Regions from separate parts of the Homo sapiens genome. Here all the other regions are linked to region 1. The links come from fine-mapping of genetic effects on gene expression. A gene starts in region 1. Each other region holds a variant in brackets. All regions are shown on one strand. Distances are from middle to middle.

The links. PIP is the estimated chance that this variant, and not a neighbour inherited with it, causes the effect.
Region 2: its variant is fine-mapped to the expression of ATF7IP2 in thyroid (GTEx, PIP above 0.99).
Region 3: its variant is fine-mapped to the expression of ATF7IP2 in whole blood (TOPMed, PIP above 0.99).
Region 4: its variant is fine-mapped to the expression of ATF7IP2 in whole blood (TOPMed, PIP 0.96).
Region 5: its variant is fine-mapped to the expression of ATF7IP2 in whole blood (TOPMed, PIP above 0.99).

The regions. Positions count from the first base shown.
Region 1 is chr16:10,382,951-10,388,056 of GRCh38, forward strand. It overlaps ATF7IP2 (activating transcription factor 7 interacting protein 2), which reads left to right and starts at 3,111. Exons shown (of 14, transcript NM_001393719.1): 1 at 3,111-3,172. RefSeq lists a silencer at 2,850-2,989.
Region 2 is chr16:10,259,985-10,265,090 of GRCh38, forward strand. No RefSeq gene overlaps it. Among named protein-coding and RNA genes, the nearest start is that of GRIN2A, 80 kb to the left of the region's middle. The variant G/A (reference allele first, on the strand shown) is at 2,375.
Region 3 is chr16:10,332,682-10,337,787 of GRCh38, forward strand. No RefSeq gene overlaps it. Among named protein-coding and RNA genes, the nearest start is that of ATF7IP2, 51 kb to the right of the region's middle. The variant G/A (reference allele first, on the strand shown) is at 2,885.
Region 4 is chr16:10,467,791-10,472,896 of GRCh38, forward strand. ATF7IP2 (activating transcription factor 7 interacting protein 2) reads left to right here. Exons shown (of 14, transcript NM_001393719.1): 10 at 4,320-4,393. Among named protein-coding and RNA genes, the nearest start is that of LINC01290, 58 kb to the right of the region's middle. The variant T/A (reference allele first, on the strand shown) is at 2,839.
Region 5 is chr16:10,359,303-10,364,408 of GRCh38, forward strand. No RefSeq gene overlaps it. Among named protein-coding and RNA genes, the nearest start is that of ATF7IP2, 24 kb to the right of the region's middle. The variant A/G (reference allele first, on the strand shown) is at 3,159.

The sequences.
Region 1 (5,106 bases):
CCGCCACAATCCTCAATGGAAGAAAACTATCAAACAAGAAAGCATTCCAACACAAAAATGTAAAGAATTTACTCAAGATAATTGATATTCTCAGCTTTATTAATTTTAATAATAATAGTTACTATACATCAAGTGTCTACTATAAGTCAGGAAATGTACAAGCAACTGTATCTGTTATTATGTTAAGCATTATTTTAAAAAGTCAAACAGCAAATTGAGAGACTTCATAGTACTTCATATAGCACATTATGTGAATGAATTTATTTATTTATTTATTGAGATGGAGTCTCGCTCTGTCACCAGGCTGGAGTGCAGTGGCGTGATCTTGACTCATTGCAACCTCCTTCTTTCAGGTTCAAGCAATTCTCCTACCTCAGTCTCCCAAGTAGCTGGGACTACAGGTGCGCACCATCATGCCCAGCTAATTTTTGTATTTTTAGTAGAGACAGGGTTTCACCATGTTGGCCAGGATGGTCTTGATCTCAAGTGATCTGCCCACCTTGGCCTCCCAAAGTGCTGGGATTACAGGCATGAGCCACCGCACCCAGCCAACAATAAACTTTATTAACATAATGTCCAGTAAATATCAATTATTATAATTTTTTTATAGAGATGGGGTCTCGCTATATTGCCCAGGCTGGTCTCAAACTCCTGGGCTCAAGCTATCTGTCGGTCTTGGCATCCTAAAATGCTAGGATTACAGGTGTCCACCTGGCCTATTATATTACTATTGTTAAAATGACATACAAGATATCCTAGTACCTTAAATAGACATAACATTTCTAAAGGCTAGTTACTCACTGTTAACTGAATTAAGTCCAAATTCCTTATCTGACTGCAACTTACTACCTCCCACTCCCTCCCACACTATCTCTCTTAGCAACCCTATAATTATTTTCAAAATCATGTTCTAGAACAACAAAAAATGTGCAAAGATTAGGATTGTTTTACATTTTTGCTAATTTCCTTAACGTCTGACTTAATACAGTAAGACTCTCTCTCTCTTTTTTTTTTTTTTTTGGTTTTTGAGACGGAGTCTCACTCTGTTGCCCATGCTGGGGTGCAGTAGTGCGATCTTGGCTTACCACAAACTCCACCTCTCGGGTTCAGTCGATTCTCCTGCTTCAGCCTCCCGAGTAGCTGGGATTACAGGCACGCGCCACCATGCCCGGCTAATTTTTGTATTTTTAGTAGAGATGGGGTTTCACTATGTTGGCCAGGCTGGTCTCGAACTATTGACCTCATGATCCGGCTGCCTCAGCCTCCCAAAGTGCTGGGATTACAGATGTGAGCCACTGCGCTTGGCCTCTCTCTCTCTCTTTTCTAAGACAGTCTCTTGCTCTATCACCCAGGGTGGAGTGCAGTGACACTATCACAGCTCACTGCAGTCCCTAACTCCTAAGCTTAAGCGATCCTCCCGTCCTCTCAGCCTCCCGTGTAGGTGGAAGGATGCAGCTAACTTTTTATTTTTACTTTTCTAGAAAAGTGGGTATCTCACTTTGTTGCCCAGGTTGGTAGTTAGATTCTCATGTCTGCTTCTGTATTCAATCTGTAGCAATATCACCCGTCGATTTTCCAGAGGCTTCTAGAAAATTCCATGTACTCTCCTGACTCAGAGAATGAAAAAAGCAAAATCATCTTTATATTATTATAAAAATAGTATAATTATAAAAATAGGATTGACATTAAAGATTACCCCTAGATCCCTGGAGCATATTTGGGGAACTGGCTGGTTGGAGTATGTTATTCCATTGATGACCCAACCTAGATTGTCCGGACTTGCCTCATTTTTCTCCTAACTGGAAGTGACAAGGCAGGCAGCTCTAGCCTCATGACAAGCGTGGTGGCTCACGCCTGTAATCCCAGCACTTTGGGAGGCCGAAGCAGGTGGATTACCTGAGGTCGGGAGTTCATGACCAGCCTGATCAACATTGAGAAACCCCGTCTCTACTAAAAATAAAAAAAAAACTTAGCCAGGCACTGTGGCGCATGCCTATAATCCCAGCTACTTGTTGGGGGCAGAGGTAGGAGAAGCGCTTGAACCCGGGAGGCGGAGGTTGTGGTGAGCCGAGATCGCGCCATTGCACTCCAGCCTAGGCAACAAGAGCAAAACTCTGTCAAATAAATAAATAAATTAATTAATGAAAAAGAGGGCATTATGGATCTAATCTACTGTTGTATTTCCTGTATTTTCTACACAGTGGGCATTCAGTGACCACCTGTTGAGTGAGTTCATGGCATCCAAGTGCACAGCCACCTAAGGCATCGGGCCTCATGAAATCACAAGCAGCCAAGGCTGGCAGGTTCCTGGGACAATTTAGCAAACTCAAGGCTATGGTGCGGGTGGGTGCAGTGGCTCATGCCTGTAATCCCAACATATGGGGAGGCAGAGGTGGCGGATCACCTGAGGTCCAGGAGTTCAAGACCAGCCTGGCCAACATAGTGAAACCCCATGTCTATTAAAAGTACAAAAATTAGCCGGGCATGGTGGTGCACACCTGTGGTCCCAGCTACTCGGGAGGCTAAGGCAGGAGAATCGCTTGAACCTGGGAGGTGGGAAATGGGGGTACAGTGAGCTGAGATCACGCCACTGAACTCCAGCCTGGGCGACAAGAGCGAAACTCCGTCTCAAAAAAAAAAAAAAAAAAAAAAGACTACGGTGCTAGGACCAATCTCCTGAGTCACAAAATTTAAGGAGTCGTCCAAAAAAGTAAATAAGATAAATATTTTCAAACAATATTAGAAAATTCAAATCGGAAACTACCGACCGGGTGAGGAGTTGTTTTTGTAAATAAGGTCTTATTCCTAATAAGTTTCGAAAGTCTAAATCTTCACACGAGTCACTCAAAAGAAAGGCCCAGCTCAGGAGCCTGCATCTGCGCTATGGCGGGTAAGCCCCGGTGGCTGACCGGAAGAAGCGCCCACGGAGGCGAACCCCAGGCGCCCCTCAGCCTACTTCCATTTCCCCTCGCGACCCTTCGCCCCGCCCACTCTAGCTGGCTGTGCCTGACTGGCTGGGCTGCCGCATATTCGCGCTGCCATTGGTCCATAATCAGCTGGGGGTGGGCGTAGGGAGACCTACTTCAGCAGGTCCTGGCCGGACCAGCATTGTTAACGGCTGCGGTTCGAAGTGGCTGTGGGTATTGCTGCGGCTGGTGCGTCGTCGCTCTAGGTACGTTGGGGCCGGGCGAGTGTCCTGCGAGAGCGGCGATTGGCGGGGTGGCGGCTCTAGGAGCGTCGGTCGCCTCTCTGAGGGCCGGCCCCGGAGGCCTCGGAGCGCCGGGCCTACCGGACGTTTGCGGCGAAGCTGCCCTGACTGAAAAGCGTCCGCGGGGCCGTCTGACAGGTCCGGGAAGAGGCCCCTGAGGGGCGGACGGGCGCGTCTCCACCGTTTTCGCAGAGGGATACTGGTGAAGCGGGAGTGGTGTGCGGCCTCAGGTCCGGGCGGCACTGGGGTTAGGGACTGCGGAGGGAAGTGGTGCGTGTTTTTTGTCCTGAGGGGTAAGTAAAAGCTCGCTCTTGTCCGGAATGCTTTCAGAAATTAACGGATAAATCTCCACCTCCACCAATTTTAGTGTCCCATTGCCAAATTTTCTTGAGTTGTTTTAATCATCTAATGAAGTCAGGTGCCAGAAGGCAACTGGATCTCGCCTGGCGGCCTTGAAGTTTGTTAAAAAGTAGGGACCAGAGCATCAGGAAAAATACAAAATTCTGAGTAAAATGCTGAAATCCCGTACCTCTGAGCTTGCCGGTGTAAGGATGGTAGGATTTAAGGAAGACGATTTCCTTAAGGTAGAAGTTCGTTTTTATGAATATGTTTTTAAGAAAATTCCATCTTATCGCCCTTCTCTAACCAGTTTTCTCCAAGTTTGGCAAGCAAGTTTGAGAAAGAGAGGACGCAATAATTTTTTTTGCCTTATTTTTGTTAAAACCTTACCGCACTTAAGGAAACGGACTTTCTACCTTTCCGTGTTTCTGTGTTGAAAATGAAGTTTCTAACCACGTGTTCCTTCCTTTACGACACAATGGCTTTTTCTGTTCTGAAGACTTGCATATGGTTAATATGTATGGAAGAAGAGGACAGTTGTACTGAATAGTCCACATTAGAAAAATTATGTCATATTCACTTAAATTGTTATTCTAGATTGCGACTTAATACTGTTTTTATTATGATTTTGTCATATTTATTGTAGCCAGTAAATGACCTGCGACATAACTATTTGCAAAACAAATGGGGAAGACCAAGATAAAGATAAGTTATATCACAGGAAAGCAATTGAAAATGCAAAAATGAAGCATCTGAATGAAGGACTAATAACACTGAATTCAGCTTTTGTGAAGTATGCCTTTCTTCTTAGCTCGTTTATTCTGCAATACGTTTGTAGAAGTGTTGACTCCGATCTTAATCAAATTTACTTCACTCTCAGTCTTATCTGCAGATATGTACAGACCACATCCTAAGATTGACTTCTGCCTCAACAGAAATACATGAGCCAGTGCCTTATTGGAAATGATTTGCGTGTTTTAAGAACTGGTGTATATAGGTACATCTTGAATGTTCTGCTTTCCTTGCCTTATGCCTGTACTTCACCTCAGCCTTCAATTCCATTGTGTTTCCTTGCTACTTGGTATCTTGAAATCTGGTACGAAACTATTGCATGATCCCTGCACCTTTGCTTCTGCATATATCATAGCTCTCTTATAGTGAGTGTGCACAATCTATTTCATTTGATGTAATCAAAGTTTAATATATTGGATAGTTAAAAATAAAATACAACTTTAAATGCGCAAGAGTATTAGTTCTCATTGTTGAGCGAGATGATACAAAATACCAAAAAATCTTATTCTCTCATTCTATGTCAGTCTATTTTACTCCCCCCCCCTCCCCCCGCCACCCGGACACACACACACTGCGGTGACTTATCTATCTCGTTTATTTTATTTTATTTTACTTATTTATTTTTCTTTGTGAGGCAGAGATTCGCTCTTTGGCTCAGGCTGGAGTGAAGTGGCGCGATCTCGGCTCACTGCAACCTCCTCCCTCCGGGTTCAAGTGATTCTCCTGCCTCAGCCTTGCAAGTAGCTGGGATTATAGGCGCCCGACTA
Region 2 (5,106 bases), 120 kb before region 1:
TCTTGCTCTGTTGCCCAGGGTGGAGTGCAGTGGCTCGATCTTGGCCCACTGCAACCCCTGCCTCCCAGGTTCAAGCAATTCTCTTGCCTCAGCCTTCCCGGTAGCTGGGATTACAGGCATATGCCAACACGCCTGGCTAATTTTTGTATTTTTAGTAGAGACAAGGTTTCACCATGTTGGCCAGGCTGGTCTTGAACTCCTGACCTCAAGTGATCTGCCCTCCTCAGCCTCCCAAAGTGCTAGGATTGCAGGCGTGAGCCACCATGCCTGACCTCATTTAAAACATTTAATTCAGCTCCAAAATGAGCCCTAAGAGATGAAAAAGCAAAAGCATTCTTGACCAAGTAGACTCTATTTTTTAAAAAGAAATATAGCAATCTCTGGTGCCATTTTGTGTGCAGTAAAGCGGTGAAGCAAACATCCTCCATAGAGGTGACTGTCACACGCGTCCGTGTGAAGAGAGTCCATCAAACAGGCTTTGTGTGAGCAACAAGGCTGTTTATTTCACCTGGGTGCAGGTGGGCTGAGTCCAAAATGGAGTCAGCAAAGGCTGGTGGGATTATAACTAGTTCTTTAGGTTTAGGATAGGCGTACAAAGTATATTCTTAAGGGCGGGGAGAATATTACAAAGTACCTTCTTAAGGGCGGGGGAGAATATGTGTATCAGTTAGGGTGGGGCAGGAACAAATCACAATGGTGGAATGTCATCAGTTAAGGCTATTTTCACTTCTTTTGTGGCTCTTCAGTTGCTTCAGGCCATCTGGATATATACGTGCAGGTCACAGGGGATACGATGGCTTAGCTTGGGCTCAGGGACCTGACCGTGGTATCAATCTCACTCCTCACATCCAAAGAAATGTCTAAGGTTGTAGCTCCCACACCCCAAAAGATTAAATTTCTCTCAAGTCATGATTCTATTCCGTAACGATTCTATCCGATGGTGCTTATGGCAAAAGTCAAGAAAATTGCCTATTGCAAACTCAGTTCCAGTTTCTGATTTTTGAGGGATGTGTTTAGACTACTGCCCCCCTTGTTTGCGTCTAAAATTTCCATCCAGATGAACAGTAAGCAAAATAAGTGATCGTGGAAAAACATACTCAAGAGGCACAAAAGACTTTTCGATAGCAATGGGAAAAGCCTTAGCCAAAATGAGGGCTTACATTTGCAACGTGCCCATTCCATGTCAGATACTCTTCTAGGTACTTCTCACATGCAAACTCATCTAATTAGGGGGTGGATCTTATTATGATTCCTGTCTTACAGATGAGCACATTGCAGCTCAGAGAGGTAGAGTGACTGGACCCTTGACACACAGCCAGTAAGGGTGGGAGCTGGCATTGGATCATAGTCTTAATGTCGTAACCGAGTGAGTTATAGAGAAACGCCACACTCTGAGACTAATTCAGGAGTCCTTTACTGCCGGCGACCGAGAGACGGCTAGAGCTCAAAAACTCTGTCGGCCTCGAAGAAGGGGCTAGATTTCCTTTTATATCTTGGTTTAAAAAGGGGAGGGGGAGCCTAGCTGAAGCAATTTCACAGAAGCAGAACAGGCAAAAAGTTAAAAGATAAATGGTTACAGAAACAGTTACAGAAAAATAAACAGTTCCAGGTGCAGGGGCTTAAACTATCACAAAGAGATAAATGCAGGGGCTTTGGGTACCATCAACCGAGCGAGTTCCCAGGAGCTGCTGGTACAGCTTGCCTCAGTATCTTATCAGTAAGTGCATTCCTGGATGCCTGGATGTGCTTGGAGTCAGCTTGTACCAGTTATGTCCTTAAGGGAGGAGGATAAGGGGCTGCAAGTGAAGAAACGAAAACGGAGTCTGTCTGGCTCTCTCAGCTAAGTGACAGTCAATCAGGCTAAAACAAGGTAGGGTATCACATTAACGCTACACTCCACAGCGTCAATAATTTGCAGTAATCACCAATGCTACTTTTAAGAAGTTTTAATATGCACTTTGGTTATCCATTTATAACTTTAATACTAAAGTTAATTATCACGAGGCCAGTCATGGTGGCTCATGCCTGTAGTTAATACAAAAATTAGCCAGGCATGGTGGCATGCACCTGTAGTCCTGGCTACTTGAGAGGCTCAGGTAGGAAAATTGCTTGAACCAAAAAGGTGGAAGTTGCTGTGAGCCGAGATCGCACCACTGCACTCCAGCCTGGGCGACAGAGTGAGACTCAGTCTCAAAAATAAATAAATAAAAAGTAAAAACATAAAGTGAATTATCTGGTAGAAGTATAGGAGGTATGGAGGGAGAAAGTATCTACACCCAAGACACATTAGAGTCCTTCCTGAGGCACTTAAGTCCCAGACCCTGGGACACTAAACGACATGAAAGGCAAGAAATAGCTACCATTTTGCAATTCC[G/A]TATTATTCCAAATATACCTCTTACTGCCTTTTTTCATGCTCCTTGTATTTGCTGAAGAGGTTTAAAACAAAGAGTAAACTGCAATGCCAGCTCAACTTGCATAATTCTAATGAATCGATTCCAAACAACATTCAAAGCAGTAATATCCTCACCCTCACTTCCTCCAGGCCCACCCCTAAATCAAAAATAAAAAATGGCTTGATCCCTTTACAAACACTAGACTAGGAACTTCACTTATAATATCTCATTTAATCCCTAGCTTAAACTGACAAGCAAATATTAGTTCTCATTTTACAAATGAGGAGACTGAGGTTCATAGTGGTTCAGTGTCTTGCCCAAGGTCACACACCTAGTAAAGGACATGAAGAGGGTTCTGAACCACGTCTGTTTTCAAAATCTCCAGGTTCTGCTGCCTTCTGTATTTCAAGGTGGTTTCACCAGAGAAATCCCCCAAGCCCCAGAAGGAAAAACAAACAAAAAAACAGTTATATTCCAATGTCCTCACAAGAACTGGAGGCCGGAGGCCATGGCTCATTCTTGTAATCCCAGTACTTCGGGAGGCCAAAGCAGGAGGACTGCTTGATCTCAGGAGTTCAAGACCAGCATGGGCAACATGCCGAAACCCTGTCTCTACCAAAAATACAAAAATTACCTTGGTATGGTGGTGCATGCCTGTAGTCCCAGCTATTTGGGAGGCTGAGATGGGAGGACGGCTTGAGCCCAGGAGACAGATGCTGTAGTGAGCTGAGATCGTGCCACTGCATTCCAGCCTGAACAACACAGCAAGACTCTGTCTCAAAAAAAAATTCATTTTAATTTTAAAAAAAGAACTGGAGATAGTATAAATGTTATTAAACTTGAGTGGTGCTAGTTGAGAACTGTGACCAATTAAATAGCTACTTCCTCTGTTCTGAACTGCATCCAGCCTGTTGATGAGATTGGCAGATCAGCGCTTTGAGCCGTAATGTGAAGAATCTCAGGAGAAGAAAAGAGCAGATAATGGCACTTCACTATGGGTGGGGCTCAGTGGAGAGGCCAACACTTGTAAGAATTGTGTTAATAGCAATGTTTCTGGGATCCCTGCAGTCAACCAGAATGTGACATGTAAAAAGAAGTTTATTATTTTTTCCATATTAATACTGATCAAGTGCAGACATAAAACCTCTCTGCAGGTTTCATTTCTTTTGGATACAGGCACATTTTGCCATTTTCAAACACAAAATCTCTGTGACCAATGCTTGCTCATGAAAGGCTAATAATAATGCATTGACTGCTACAAGCTATTTTTTGTTCTGGCTGAAACTTTGTGACACTCCCTAGGTGAAGCTTTTCTTCCAGGGTTTTTACAAGGTCACTGCTGTTTTCTAGGGCACTCGTCCCAAACTGTGGAGGTGAGAGTAGTGCTGGACATGTGTCGATGCCAGAACGTTCATCTCGATATTTGAGTCAGAGTTTAAAATTCTTTTTTTGTTTTTTTCTTTTCTGACACGGAGTCTCGCTCCGTCGCCCAGGCTAGAGTGCAGTGGCGCAATCTCAGCTTACTGCAACCTCTGCCTCCTGGGTTCAAGCAATTCTCCTGCCTCAGCCTCCTGAGTAGCTGGGACTACAGGTGTGCGCCACCACGCCAGGCTAATTTTTGTATTTTTAGAAGACATGGGGTTTCACCATGTTGGTCAGGCTGGTCTCAAGCTCCTGACCTCGTGATCCACCCGCCTCAGCCTCCCAAAGTGTTGGGATTACAGGCGTGAACCACTGTGCCTGGCACAATGAACTGGTTTTGAACAACTTTTTTGTCTCAAACACTGCCCTTGACACTGGAGCTAGACCAGGGAAAAAGGACCAAGTTGGCCTCCATGGAGCTTATATCCTAGTGGGGCAGGAAAAAAGATTTTTAAAAGATAAATTAAATAAACGAATTAACATTTGGAATGGGTAGAATTGTGTCCCCCAAAAAGATATGCTCAAGTCCTAACCCCCAGTGACCTTATTGGAAAATAAAGTCTTTATAGATATAATCAAGGTAAGATGAGGTTATACGGGATTCGGTGGGCCTTAAATTCACTGACTGATGAATCCCTTTATAAAAGGAGGAGGCCGGGTGCGGTGGCTCATGCCTGTAATCTCAGCACTTTGGGAGGCTGAGGTGGGAGGACCACTTGAGCCCAACAGTTCGAGGCCAGCCTGGGCAACATGGTAAAACCCTGTCTCTACAAAAAATTAAAAAATTAGCTGGGTGTGGTGGCATGTACCTGTGGTCCCAGCTACTTGGGAGGCTGAGGTGGGAGGATAGCTTGAGCCTGTGAGGTTGAGGCTGCAGTGAGCCATGATAGCACCCCTGCACTCCAGCCTGGGCAAAAGAACAAGACCCTGTCTGAAAAAATAAATAAATAAATATGAAAAAAAACCATATACATATGTGAGGGTAATTTGGACACAGACAGACATGGGAGGAGAAGCCCATGTGCAGGCGGAGGCCCAGATGGGACTGACCCATCTACAAATGGAGGAACCCCGAGGAGTGCTGGGGCCACCAGAAGCTGGGAGAGGCAAGGAGACATTCTCCCCTAGAGCCTCACGGGAGAGTGCAGTCATTCCTAACTTCGATCTCAGACTTCTGGCCTCCAGAACTGTGACGGAATAAATTTCTGTTGTTTAAACCTCCCAGTGCCTGGTACCGTGTTACGGCAGCTTCAGGAAACAAATATAGCAGCTAATAGGATTCTCAGACAGT
Region 3 (5,106 bases), 50 kb before region 1:
TATTTCACTTTTCTTTTTATAGAGATAGGGTCTTGCTATGTTGCCTAGCTGGTCTCAAACTCTTGGGCCCAACCAATCTTCCTGCTCGTGAAGAATCACATTCTTGGGCCCGAGCACGGTGACTGACACCTGTAATCCCAGCACTATGGGAGGCCAAGGCAGGCACATCACTTGGGCTCAGGACTTCAAGACCAGCCTGGCCAACATGATGAAACCCCTTCTGTACTAAAAACACAAAAATTAGCTGGACGTAGTGGTGTGTGCCTGTAATCCCAGCTACTCAGGAGGCTCAGACAGGAGAACTGCTTGAATCTAGGAGGCGGAAGTTGCAGTGAGCTGAGATCACGCCACTACGCTCCAGCCTGGGCAATAGAGCAAGATTCCATCTAAAAAAAAGAATCATTTTTTTGTTTCTTGTGAAGATCCCCATGTACATGTAAAACTAATAAAATGTGGGCCGGATGGGGTGGCTCATGCCTGTAATTCCAGCACTTTGGGAGGCTGAGGTGGGCAGATCACAAGGTCAAGAGATCGAGATCATCCTGGCCAACATGGTGAAACCCCGTCTCTACTAAAAATACAAAAATTAGCTGGGCGTGATGGCGCATACCTGTAGTCCCAGCTGCTTGGGAGGCTAAGGTAGGAGAATCGCTTGAACCCGGGAGGCGGAGGTTGCAGTGAGCCGAGATCGCACCACTGCCCTCCAGCCTGGGTGACACAGAGAGAGACTCCGTCTCAAAAAAAAAAAAAAGTGTATATTTCCTCTTGAGTGGGTGTGGTGATGCACACCTACAGACCCAGCTACTCAGGAAGCTGAAGTAGGACAAATGCTTGGGCCCAGGAGGTGAAGGCTGCAGTGAGCTGTGATTGCGCCATTGCACTCCAGCCTGGGCAACAAAATGAGACTCTATCTCAAAATAAATAAAACAAGCAAACATACCAACCACAATTTCATCAATGTTTTCAACTCGAAATAATCAATATGCCAATCTAGCATATTTTGGGTTGGCACGTTCTTCACTCCTTCAACTTTTTGTGGGGCCTGTTATGTTTTTAAGGAGACACCCTGGGAGGAAGGAGGAGAAGGCCATCGCCTCCCCCCTCATTATTAAACAAAAAAAAGGTTGCTCCCCTTGTCCCTCCTCTGTCCCACTGGTGCCTCTTCTGTCAATTCTGCCAAGATTCCACCCTCAACTCCAAATCAAGAAATGCATCTGAGGCCACTATATGTGTAAAAAACCTTCCTGAAGGGCAGGAGAACTCAGGAGGCATTATACATTTCATCCATGCACTATCAACCAACACTGGGGAGCCACAAACAAAGGGAGGGACTTTTATTTTATTTTATTTTTATTTTTTTGACACAGAGTCTCGCTTTGTCATCCAGGGTAGAGTCCAGTGGCACGATCTCAGCTTACTGAAAGCTCTGCCTCCAGGGGTTCAAGTGATTCTCCTGCCTCAGCCTCCCGAGTAGCTTGGATTACAGACATGCGCCACCACACCCGGCTCATTTTGTATTTTTAGTGGAGACGGGGCTTCACCATGTTGGCCAGGCTGGTCTCGAACTCCTGACCCTGTGATCTGCCCATGTCGGCTTCCCAAAGTGCTGGGATGACAAGCGTGAGCCACCGTGCCCCGCCCATTTTATTTTTGAGACAGAGTCTCGATCTGTCACCCAGGCTGGAGTGCAGTGGAGTGATCTCAGCTCCATGCAATCTCCACCTCCCAGATTCAAATGATTCTCCCACCTCAGCCTCCTGAGTAGCTGGGACTACAGGCATCCGCCATCATGCCCGGCTAATTTTTGTATTTTTGTAGAGATGGGGTTTCCCCATGTTGGCCAGGCTGGTCTGGCATTCCTGACCTCAGGTGATCCACCATCCTTGGCCTCCCAAAGTGCTGGAATTACAGGCGTGAGTCACTGCACCTGGCCCAGGAAGGCATTTTAATCAGGGTTTTTATGCATTGCAATTTGGGAGAAACAAATCTAGCAAGTAGCTAAAACGTGTTTCAGCCAGGCAAGACTCTAGGCAGGGGTTTCTAAAGGTTTACTGCAAGTTTACCTAAGCGGAAGACAGTAGCACAGTCTGTGATTGACACATGACCTGTCAACCTCAAAGGGAGAAGCTGAGACAATATTAATATAAAGTTTATTTGGGTCAAGGTTGAGGGCAGCAGTCCAGGACACACTTCCAACTTGCTGTGGGGCGTGCTCCAGAGGACATTAGAGAGGCTGAAGTTTTTAAAGAAAAAATAACCAATGAGGAGAGAGGGTGATTACAAACATTGTTAGGAATTCTCATGGGTTTACAGAAATAACATTGGCTAGTGATTGGCTATATATTGGTGAACTGTAGGGCATTTGGTATTTTAGGGGTACGTGGCCTTAGTTAAGTGTAGAAGCCACACAGCAAGTGGCTTCAAGAGGTGATTATTATTTGGCTGGGTGCAGTGACTCAAGCCTGTAATCCCAGCACTTTGGGAGGTTGAAGTGGGAGGATGACTTGAGCCCAGGAGTGTGAGACCAGCCTGGGCAACATAGGGCGACTATATCTCTGCTGAAAACTTTTTAAAAATTTAGCCGGACATGGTGGTGCACACCTGTAGCCCCAGCTACTCAGGGGTGAAAGCCAGAGGATTGCTTGGGCCTAAGAGTTTGAGACCAGCCTAGACAACACAGTGAGACCCTGTCTCTACAAAAAATTTAAAAATTAGCCATGCATGCTGGTGTGTGCTTGCAGTCCCAGCTACTCAGGAGGCTGAGATGGGAGGATCACTTGAGCCCAGGAGGGGGAGGCTGCAGTGAGCTGTGACGGTGCCACTGCAGTCCAGCCTGGGCCACAGAGGCGGACCCTGTCTCTGAAAAAAAAAAATAAAAAATAAG[G/A]TGATTATTAATTCAAAGGGAAGTAACCTAACTGCTGTTTCATTTCAATGCCTCTTTGGCCTGATGGCTTAAAGGGGCCTGTATTCCTTGAATAAAACATTTCTTCTTGTTTTTTTCATTTGTTTGTTTTTTCCTCCCCCTATAGGCCAGCTGACAGCTTAGAAAGACTCTAGGCCATGATCAGCTTAAAATTCAGCACAGCTGTGTCTTCAGGAGGTTCGTGATCTGCCCCAGTGTGAGCAGTTCAAACCCAATGAAGCTGCTTCTCCAGAACGTTTGCGATCTGGCCCAGTTCAAACAGGTCAGATCCCTCTGGATCCATATATGACTGAGGGCCAACTTTTGCCCTCCTGGCTCCTTGACAGAGACCTCCGACAAATCATCTCCACGTTGGCTTTCTTTCTTTTTTTTTTTTTTTGAGACGGAGTTTTGCTCGTTTCCCAGACTGGAGTGCAATGGCGCAATCTCGGCTCACCGCAACCTCCGCCTCCTAGGTTCAAGCGATTCTCCTGCCTCAGCCTCCTTAGTAGCTGGGATTACAGGCATGTGCCACAATGCCCAGCTAATTTTGTATTTTTAATAGAGACAGGGTTTCTCCATGTTGGCCAGGCTGGTCTCGAGCTCCCGACCTCAGGTGATCCGCCCACCTCGGCCTCCCAAAGTGCTGGGATTGCAGGCGTGAGCCACCACGCCTGGCCTCCATGTTGGATTTCTTTTCACAGCACTGTGTCAAAATATAGCAGGAATTATTGCAACAGCAACTGTTATTAATCACACCGTAGAGCAAATCATAAGAAAACTGCAAGAACATCTTTTTTTTTTTTTTTTTTTTTTTGAGACAGGGTCTCACTTTGTCTCCCAGGCTGCAGTGCAGTGGCATGATCAGGGTTCCCTGCAGCCTTGACCTCCCAGGCTCAAGTGATTCTTCCACCTTAGCCTCCTGAGTAGCCGGGACTACAGGTGAGCGCCACCAGGTCCTGCGAATTTTTGTAGTTTTCATAGACACAAGATTTTGCCATGTTGTTCAGGCTGGTCTCAAACTCCTGGGCTCAAGCTAACCTCACAAAGTGCTGAGATTAGAAGTGTGAGCCACCATGCCTGGCACCAGAAGATCTTATATGCCATACGTCTTTATATATTCACAGTAGCAATGGGTAAGTATATTCCGGTAACATTTTTCAAAACTTCCCCACCCACAGCCAACCCTCCACCCTTGCTATTCTTTTTTTTTTTTTTTTTTTTTTTTTGAGATGGCATCTCTCTCTGTCACCCAGGGTGGAGTGCAGTGGCGCGATCTTGGCTCGCTGCAACCTCCGCCTCCTGGGTTCACGCCATCCTCCTGCCTCAGCCTCTCCAAGTAGCTGGGACTACAGGCGCCCTCCACCACGCCTGGCTAATCTTATTTTTTTGTGTGTATTTTTAGTAGAGACAGGGTTTCACCGTGGTCTCGATCTCCTGACCTCGTGATCCGCCCGCCTCAGCCTCACAAAGTGCTGGGATTACAAGCATGAGCCACTGCGCCCAGCACTTTTTTTTTTTTTTTTTGAGGCAGAGTCTTGTTCTGTCATCTGGGCCAGAGTGCAGTGGCATGATCTAGGCTCACTGCAACCTCTGCCTCCTGGGTCCCAGTGATTCTCCTGCCTCGGCCTCCCCAGTAGCTGGGATTACAGGCATGCACCACCACACCCAGCTAACTTTTTATATTTTTGGTAGAGATGGGGTTTCACCGCATTGGCCACGCTGGTCTCAAACTCCTGACCTCAAGTGATCCGCCCACCTCAGCCTCCCAAAGGGCTGGGATTACAGGTGTGAGCCACTGCACCTGACCCAAGTTCTTTAAGTGCACTTCCTCTTAAGTGCACTTCCAAAATTCACATCCAAAATAGTTTTAAAACTAAATTGATTTTTTTCCCCAGTGAACTCATTTGGTAGCAAAGCCTGACTTGTGACTATTTATGGTGTGGAGGAGGAAAAACTTTTCCTCTACCCTTTTAGGTTCTTTTGGGTGGTGGGGGGTGTGGCGGACTGCGAATTAAGGTGAAGAAAGCTAGATTAACACGAGAAAAACGGCTTATATGTATGCAATACAGGAGCCAACAAAAGAAGTAGCTTGCAGGCCGGGCGCGGTGGCTCACGCCTGTAATCCCAGCAATTTGGGAGGCTGAGGTGGGTGAATCACCTGAGGTCAGGAGTTCAAGGCCAGCCTGGCCAACATGGCGAAA
Region 4 (5,106 bases), 85 kb after region 1:
GATCCACCCGCCTCGGCCCCACAAAGTGCTGGGATTACAGGTGTGAGCCATGGCGCCCAGCCAAAAATCAGCCAAAAATCAAATATTCTTTTTTTTTTTTTTTTTTGAGACAGAGTTTTGCTCTTGTTGTCCAGGCTAGAGTGCAATGTCATGATCTTGGCTTACCACAACCTCTGCCTTCCGAGTTTAAGCGTTTCTCCTGCCTCAGCCTCCCGAGTAGCTGGGATTAAAGGCACGTGCCACCATGCCCGACTAATTTTGTATTTTTTAGTAGAGACGGGGTTTCTCCATGTTGGTCAGGCTGGTCTCGAACTCCCGACCTCAGGTGATCCTCCCACCTCCACCTCCCAAAGTGCTGGGATTACAGGCATGAGCCACCGTGCCTGGCCCAAATCAAATATTCTTAATAAAATTTAGATTTAAATATTTGTTTTTGTTTCTTAGAAATAATGGCAAATGTTAGAGTCCCATTGAGAAATGTGATATTTAAAAAATTGTTGAATTTGTGTTTTTTTAAATCTGCATGGAAAACTGTTGAGCATAAACTGAAAAATGAACATGATTTTTGCCTCTCCCCATGCAGTCAACAGCTACAGGAACTGACATTTTGCTATAAACAAGGCAAATCAGGCTGAAAAATTATTTTCAGATATTGTTCTACCAGGAGTTTAGGATCATGATTGGGAAAACAAATGACATGAACTCTACCATTGTCCCAGCTTCCTGCCTGGAGGCATTTTCCAGGTCAAGAGCAGGGATGGAGGAGGGATTCCAAACAGAGCCTTGTGGTCTTGCTGAGTTTAGGTCAGAGATTGGAGAATCTGAGTTGACCAGAATTTATGAAGTGGAACAGTGAAGAGAAAAAAATTCAGATAGAGCTCTGAAGATCTGCAAAGGGGCCTTGAAATATTGGCTGAATACAGATCTGTATGCAAAGGATGAAACTACGAGAGACTGGGGAAAGAACTATTGGAAAGAAGGCCAAGTGATTGATTCCTAGAAGTCATACATCTTGTTTTCCCCCTGGCTAGAAGAAAGATTGGTAACATTTTGCTTTCCCCTTGGCTAAAATGAAGAAAATTTATAATCAGAAGTAACAGGTAGGGTCCACAGATGGTTATTGCTTTAGTGGGGCTCAATTAGTCCCAGAGACTGCAAAGAATCTATACACAGAAAAGCCAAAAGCAAGCTTCAAAGGAATCAGGCTAATCCTAAGTAATTTAATTGCATGCCAGAACAAAGTCTAACACTCTTCTGAAGAAATGAAACAACATCCATTACCCAACAGCATAAATTTTACAATATCTGACATCTAATAAGAAATTCCCAGGCATGCAACATAGCAAAAAATATGACCTATCAACAAGGAGAAGAATGAAGTGATCTACCTAGAAATAATTTGGACTTAGCAGACGACCTAAAAGAGCTATTGCCAATATATCAGTGAAAGAGGTATAGAAAATGTTCAGTCTAAAGCATGGAGAGGAAAAAGACTGAAAAAACAATGAACAGAGCATCAGAGACCTATGGAACAGTATCAGGCAGTCTAATACACATTATTGGAGTATCACTAAGGCAGGAGCTGAGCAAATGTTTGAAGATACAGTGTCTGAAAATTTTCCATAGTTGATGCAAATTCTAAATCCATAAATGAAAAAATGTTAAATTCAAGCAGAAGAAACATGAAAGCATACAAAACCACATCATCAGATTGCTGAAAGTCAGTGAGGAAGGGAAAATTTTAAAAAGTAGCCACACAAAAGACACATCACATAGAAAGGAACAGAAAGTCTGACCAACATGGAGAAAACCCCGTCTCTACTAAAAATATAAAATTAGCCCAGCATTGTGGCGCATGCCTGTAATCCCAGCTACTCGGGAGGCTGAGGCAGGAGAATCACTTTGAACCAAGGAGGCAGAGGTTGCGGTGAGCCGAGATCATGCCACTGCACTCCAGCCTGGGAAACGAGCAAAACACCGTCTCAAAAAACAAAAAAGGAACAAAAAGTAAGAATGGCACCATACTTCTTGCTGTAAGCTGTGCAAACTAGAAGACATCTCTAAAATTGAGATCATAGATACTTCTAAAGTATTGAAAGTTTAAAAAAAAAAAAAAGTCCATTCAGAATTCTATATGCAGTGAAAATATGTTTCCAAAGTGTAGGGGAAAAACAGACTTTTTAAGCCAAAAAAAAGGGAGAGAATACATCAACAGACCTACATTACAAGAAATTTTGGAGGAGATTTTTCAGGCAAAAGGAAAATAGTATTAAATAGAAATTTGGATCTGTACAAAGTAATATAGACTGACAGACATTGTAAATATGTTGGCAAATAGAAAATATTTTTGTTTCTTTATAGTGTATACACACAACACACTCTATATAGAAACACTACATCCTATATATATGTAGAATATATAGTTTAGAAATTATATATATACACACACACAAGCAAGAAACAATTGGAATTTGAAATTTAAAATGGATGCCATTTACAATGACTTCAGAGAACATAATATATTTAGGGATAAACCAAAACCACCTAACCTAAAACTACAAAGTATTACTGAAGAAATTAAAGGAGACCTAAATAAGTGGTGAGATATGTAACTTTCATGAATTCATTAAGATGTTACTTCACCCCAAATTGTATATCTATCAATGCCTCAGCCGTTTTTGTAGTAAGTAACAAACTGATTAAAAACTTAAGGCCAGGCATGATGGCTTACACTTATAATCCCAGCATCTTGGGAGGCCAGGGCAGGAGGATCACTTGAGGTCAGGAGTTCAAGACCAGCCTGGCCAACATAAAAAAACATTTTTAAAAAAATTTTTT[T/A]AAAAAGTTAGCCAGGCCTGGTGACACATGCTGTCATCCCAGCTACTTAGGAGGCCGAGATGAGAGGATCTTTTGAGCCCAGAGGTTCAGGCTTCAGCAAGATACATTTGCACCACTACACTCCAGCCTGGGAGACAGAGCACGAGTCTGTCTCTTAAAAATATATATATATGTATATATATATATGTGTGTGTGTATATATATATATATGTGTGTGTATATATATGTGTGTGTGTGTGTGTGTGAATATATATATGAAAATGCAGAGACCCAGAAGATGAAAACAATGTTGGGAAAGAAAGTTAGAAGACTACACTATCTTTGTTCAAGACTTAACTATAAAGGTGTAGTATTAAGACAGTGGTGTTGGCATAGGGATAGGTATGTTGACCAGTGGACACACTAGAGACTGCACATGTAGTTCATTGGTTTACAACAAAGGTACCGATGTAGTTTAACAGGAAAAGATGTTCTTTTCAAAAATGTTGCTGGAATAGAGGGAAAAGTGAACCTCAGCTCTTACTTCATACCATAAACAAAAATTAACTCAAAATGGATCATACACCTAAGTACAAACAGTAAAAACAGAAGATGTCTGCAAGAAAATGGTATAATTGGACTGGGCGCAGTGGCTCACACCTGTAATCCCAGCACTTTGGGAGGCCAAGGTGGGCGGATCACCTGAGGTCAGGAGTTCAAGACCAGCCTGACCAACATGGTGAAACCCTGTCTCTACTAAAAATAGAAAAATTAGCCGGGCATGGTGGCATATGCTTGTAATCCCAGCTACTGAAGAGGCTGAGGCAGGAGAATCGCTTGAACCTGGGAGACAGAGGTTTCGGTGAGCCAAGATTGCGCCACTGCACTTCAGCCTGGGGGACAAGAGCAAAACTCCATCTCAAAAAACAAAAAAGTCGCTCATAAAAAAAAAGGGTCAAAATGGCTTGAAATATTCTATAACCGTAATCAGCATCATTTATCATCATTGTCTCAAATTTGTGGTAAATATTGCTACTGGAGAGATAAAATGAAGAGTAGTAGCAGTTCTTTTTAAAATAATTTTCTTTGTTATAGTTTTCTACCTTTAGGAGTCCAGGTGTCTTTATGGGTCTTAATAGATTTCCTTCATTACATGATGTTTCATTTTTATAGAAGTAAGTATATACGCTCAAAGGAATTTGTATGTTTTATACATTTATGTCCATTGTATACTTATATATATTTTGAGTCATTGTGAAAGACCCATAAAATGTAGTAGGGATCTAATTATTGGATTTTGATGAATCTTTAGTCATATAACGGAACTGGTAATAAATGGAGTTTTTTTGGGTATTTGGTTTTATCATTTCTATTTCCCCCCACGATTGTTCAATTAAAACATTATGAAATGTTAAGTTAGAGGACTCCTAACCACTAATTGCATGTTTAAGCCTGATAATGCATGTTTAGTTTTTGTTTTTAATTTCTTTTTATCATTTTAGTAACAATGATGATGTTATGTTGATTTCTGTGGAAAGTCCTAATTTGACAACTCCAATTACATCAAATCCAACAGGTATCTTATAGCTGATTAGAATATGATCTATCAAGTTAGAAGGCCTTAAATCAATGTTTGCTTTAAAGTGAAAAATTGAATAATATCTTTTAATAAAATGAAAAAGTTAAATGTACTCTCAAATGTTCTAATTTATATCATGGTTAATATTACCTAAATAAATGATTCCTTAATGTAATTGAGATTTCATTTTAACCTTGTGTTTTATCAGTTTAGGGCCTTTTGTTTCTTTTATGTGTTTAATGACTTTATAACTTGTAAAAACTACTTATTTTTAATGGTTTGCCCTGGCCTTTTTTTGATGGTAGTGACGGTTTGTTTTTTGTCTTCTTATTTTTTATCTATTAAGTTATCTTATAGTCTACTTAAGATTTAAAATTTGTCTAGTCAGTCTGGGTGTGGTGGCTCACACCTGTAATCCAAGCACTTTGGGAGGCTGAGGCAGGCAGATCACCTGAGGTCAGGAGTTCAAGACCAGCCTGGCCAACAAAATGAAACCCCATCTGTATTAAAAATACAAAAATTAGCCAGGCATGGTGGCAGGTGCCTGTAATCCCAGCTACTCTGGAGGGTGAGGCAGGAGAATTGCTTGAACCTTGGAGGCAGAGACTGCAGTGAGCTGAGATCGTGCTACTGCACTCCAGCCTGGGCAAAACAGCAAGACTCCGTCTCAAAAAAAAAAAAAAAAAAATTTTAACCTTACATTTCCAATG
Region 5 (5,106 bases), 24 kb before region 1:
CTTTTCTGTCTGAGACCTGCAATCAACTATTTCTTCAGGAAGCCATGGTTTCGTGGAGTGGGAAATAACATTTTAACTGAACACTGGGGGAGTTCATAGCCATTAGGTTGGTCATTTTTCCTGGGTTTTTCAGCATGGAAAGCTAGGAAATACATATTGCTTTTGCTTTCAAAAGAGTAAATAGATCATGAGTTCAGTGTATGAAAGAGTTATTTGGATAAAGGCGCTTTCCTGATGTAGATGAATGTGAGGTTCCCTATTCTCCTTTTCTCAATTTCCTTTAGAAAGTTTAGTTGTCAACACACCATCCAATGTTTTCTTTTGGTAATGACTTTTCTGTGTTAGTTGAAAAGGGAAAAATAATTACCCTCTCTTTTTCTAATATAGTTGCTTATGTCTGAATTATTCAAACTAAATCGAGCTGTTGCATGACCAAAATTGGTATCTTTTTTGGGTTTAGCTAAGTATTTTTGATACCAAAAAGTAAAAAAGAAGCCAGGCACAGTGGGGAGTGCCTGTAATCCCAGCTACATGGGAGGTTGAGGGAGAATCGCTTGAGCCCCAGAGTTGGAGACTGCAGTGAGCTATGATTGCACCACTGTGCTCTGGATGACAGAGATCCCAACTCTTAAAAAAAAAAGAAAAGAAGTTATGCTGAAGAAAAGAACAATAATTTTAAAATACAGTACTGCATAATCCCACTTAGAATAAATTCTAAAACAAGGCAACTAATACATTTTAATTGAAAGAAGATGAGTTTTATGGGGTTGGTGATCAGTGGTTGGGGGATGATTGCAAAGGGCATAAGGGAATGTGGGGATGGTGATGGAAGTTCATCTTTGGTATGACAATGTCTATACTTCTCCAAACTCATTGTACACTTAAAATATGTGCCTTTTGCTTTATGTAATTTTTACATCCATAAAGTTGACTTCATTAAAAAAGAAAAAAATTTTGGAATGACTCAAACTTGAACTCATATGATGGAAACAAATATCGAAGCAAAGTCTCACTTTAGTAAAATATTTGAAATAATCTAAGCAGAAACGGACCTCAGATACAGAGCCTACTTCTGATGTAAGCATCTTGGAGACTAGCCTTTGATCCCTTCAAGTAAATGGCCAGGAATATGCTGAGTTTGTTTGTGCTGGCTACTAGACTGATGAGCATCAAGTCATGTCAACGTTTCCCATCAACACACTGCAGACGGGAGACTGATAACAAGCATATAGTAAACAGGCAGATAGATAACCTAAGTCTATTCCCTCCAGGGAGGGACCATAAATATGCAAAATCTCTCCGAAATCTGGAGGGGTGATATGGTTTGCCTCTGTGTCCCCACTCAAATCTCTTCTGAAATTGTAATCCCCACGTGTCAAGAGAGGGATCCGGTGGGAGGTGATTGGATTGTGGGGACGGTTTCCCCCATGCCGTTCTTATGATAGAGAATTCTCATGAGATCTGATGCTTTAAAAGTGGCAGTTTCGGCCAGGCGCAGTGGCTCACACCTGTAATCCCAGCACTTTGGGAGGCTAAGGTGGGCAGATCACAAGATCAGGAGATCGAGACCATCCTGGCTAACAAGGTGAAACACCGTCTCTACTAAAAATACAAAAAATTAGCTGGGCACGGTGGCACGTGCCTGTAGTCCCAGCTACTCGGGAAGCTGAGGCAGGAGAATCCTTTGAACCTAGGGGGCGGAGGTTGCAGTGAACCAAGATAGCACCACTGCACTCCAGCCTGGGTGACAGAGCGAGACTCCATCTCAAACAAAACAAACAAACAAAAAATGTGGCAGTTTCCCCTGCACTCGCTCTCTTTCCTGACACCATGTAAGAGGTGCCTTGCTTCCCCTTCACCTTCCGCCATGATTGTACATTTCCCAAACCCTTCCAGACATGCAGAACTATAAGTCAATTAAACCTCCTTTCTTTATAAATTACCCAGTCTCAGGTAGTATATTCATAGCAGTGTGAGAATGGACTAATACAAGGGGGAAAAGCAGTGTTCTCCTGCTGGACTCATCACTCCACTTGGGCCTTATGTTTGGTACTGATACAATTGTCACAGTTTCCTTATTGGACACAGGAGGGTAGGTAAGGCAGAGTAGAGTTTTTTTGTTTTTTTGTTTTTTTGTTTTTTGAGACAGTTTCACTCTTGTCACCCAGGCTGGAGTGCAATGACACGATCTCGGCTCACTGCAACCTCTGCTTCCCGAGTTCAAACGATTCTCCTGCTTCAGCCTTCTGAGTAGCTGGGATTACAGGCACCTGCCACCATGCCCAGCTAATTTTTGTGTTTTTAGTACAGAGAGGGTTTCACCATGTTGGCCAGGCTGGTCTCGAACTACTGACTTCAGGTGATCCACCTGCCTTGGCCTCCCAAATTGCTGGGATTACAGGCATGAGCCACCATGCCTGGCACAGAGTAGAGTTTTATTAAGCAACAGAAAGTTCTCAGTAAAGACAGGGGTCCTGAAAGTGGGTTGCCACCAACAAGGTCAGCCCCAGGGTGTTTTGTTTTGTTTTGTTTTGTTTTTTGAGATGGAGTCTTGCTCTGTTGCCCAGGCTGGAGTGCAATGTCACGATCTCGGCTCATTGCAACCTCCGTCTCCCAGGTTCAAGCGATTATCCTGCCTCAGCCTCCCAAGTAGCTGTGATTACAGACATGCACCACCACGCCTGGCTAATTTTTGTATTTTTGATAGAGACGGGATTTCACCATGTTGGCCAGGCTGGTCTCGAACTCCCGACCTCAAGCAATCTGCCTGCCTCAGCCTCACAAAGTGCTGGAATTACAGGTGTGAGCCACCATGCCCAGCCTTCCCAGGGGCTTGTATCCTTCCTTTCTAGGGGTGTTTTTCTCATTTGCATCGTACACAAACCTCTGCTTCCTGGCTGCTTCCTGGTCCCAGTTGTTAGTGCGCAGGTGCGTTCTTCTCTATAGTTACTCCATGTTAGTTATTAGCCATAAGCACCACAGAAAAGCCCACTGAGGGGGGGTAAAACTGCACTGCAGATGTCATATTAATGATATTATAATGAGCTTGGGTCAGGTTAAGGACATTTAGTTGATTTATTGTGCCTGTGTCTAAGTCGGGACAAACATCCTTTTGAGCAAAAATTCTAGTAAAAGAGGAAGTTCTTAACCACATTTCC[A/G]TCTGCTAGCTGTATAACAGGGGTGGTTGCGGGTGCATTCCTGTAGGCATTATCTTTCTTCTGAGGTCCTCCGCCTCTTATCTGCCTAACCAGCCCCTGTCTCCTCTCTCACAGTCATGTGGGGAGTCCAGGGAGCTAGGAACATTGTACCTTTACCCATTTGCGTAATTTTCACTCTGTAAATATTTCCATAAACTATGTTATCAAAGACATAGTCTGCAACACCATCTGTGGTGAGGCACCTTTCTTTTTTTTTATTTTCTTTTTTCTGTTTTTGTTTTTTTTTTTTTTTGGGACAGAGTCTCCCTCTGTCACCCAGACTGGAGTGCAATGGCTCGATCTCAGCTCACTGCAACCTCTGCCCCACACCCCAGGTTTAAGCGATTCTCCTGCCTCAGCCTCTCGAGTAGCTGGTATTATAGGCTCCCACCACCATGCCTGACTAATTTTTGTATTTTTAGTAGAGACAGGGTTTCACTACATTGGCCAGGCTGGTCTCAAACTTCTGACCCCAGGTGATCTGCCCACCTCGGCCTCCCAAAGTACTGGGATTACAGTCATGAGCCACTGTGCCCAGCCGAGGCGCCTTTCTTTTAACCACATCACTGTGCCTAGCTCTGATACCCATTGATGTGAATTCCCCAAAAGTAAAGCTTTAACAAGAATGGAGTAATTTTATAGTTCACAGTCTGAATGCATTCTAAGAGTATATAATCTTGTTCTATTTAGTTATGTCAACCTGAAATAATTGAAAGGCTTAAAATCCAGTTTTAAAGAGTTTATTCAAGTGAAAAGCTGGGAATGGCTTTTCACTTGAATAAACCTTTCTCACACAAAGACTTCACAGCTATCACAATGTCTAAGATGGAATGTTAAATATACTCTTTTAAATTGGAAAGGAGGCCAAGTATGGTGGCTCATGCCTGTAATCCCAGCACTTTGGGAGGCCAAGCTGGGTGGATCACCTGAGGTCAGGAGTTCAAGACAAGCTTGACCAATATGGTGAAACCCCGTCTCTACTAAAAATATAAAAATTAGCCAAACGTGGTAGCATGCCCCTGTAATCCCAACTACTTAGGAGGCTGAGGCAGGAGAATTGCTTGAACCCGGAAGGTGGAGGTTGCAGTGAGCCGAGATCCCGCCACTGCACTCTACCCTGGGCGACATCTTGAGGAAAAAAAAAAAAAACATGGAAAGGAAACAGTCCCCCAAAGTCTTACCTCATTCTAGTATTAGCCCAAAAGTGTGACTCCAAAGTCTCATCAGAGACAAGGCAAGTCCCTTCTGCCTAGGAGCCTGTAAAATACAAAGCAAGTTAGTTATTTCCAAGATGCAATGGGGGTACAGGCATTCGTTAATTGTTCCCATTCCAAATGGGAGAAATTGGCCAAAATAAAAGGGCTGCAGGCCCCATGAAAGTCTAAAACCCAAGAGGGCAGTCATTTTCTTGTCTGGAGACATGAGCACTAGAGAAAATGGAATCAGTGTACTCAAGTTAAAAGCTAAGTTCTTGCTCACATACACAGAAAACAAAGGAAATTAACAGGATTATGTTTTCTTTTCTTTTTATTTTTTTTTGAGATGGAGTTTTTTGCTCTTGTCGCCCAGGCTGGAGTGCAAAAGCATGATCTCAGCTCACTGCAACCTTCACCTCCCAGATTCAAGGAGTAGCTGGGATTACAGGTGCCCATGACCATGCCTGACTAATTTTTGTATTTTTAGTAGAGACGGGATTTCACCATGTTGGCCAGGCTGGTCTCGAACTCCTGACCTCATGATCTGCCCGTCTCAGCCTCCCAAAGTGCTGGGATTACAGGAGTGAGCCACCAAGCCTGGTCTGAGGATTATAAAGTTTTCTATACAAGACTAATTTAACAATTTAATCTGTTAGAGATTGTATTCCTTTTTTTTTTTTTTTTTTTTTTTTTTAAGATAGAGTTTCAACCTT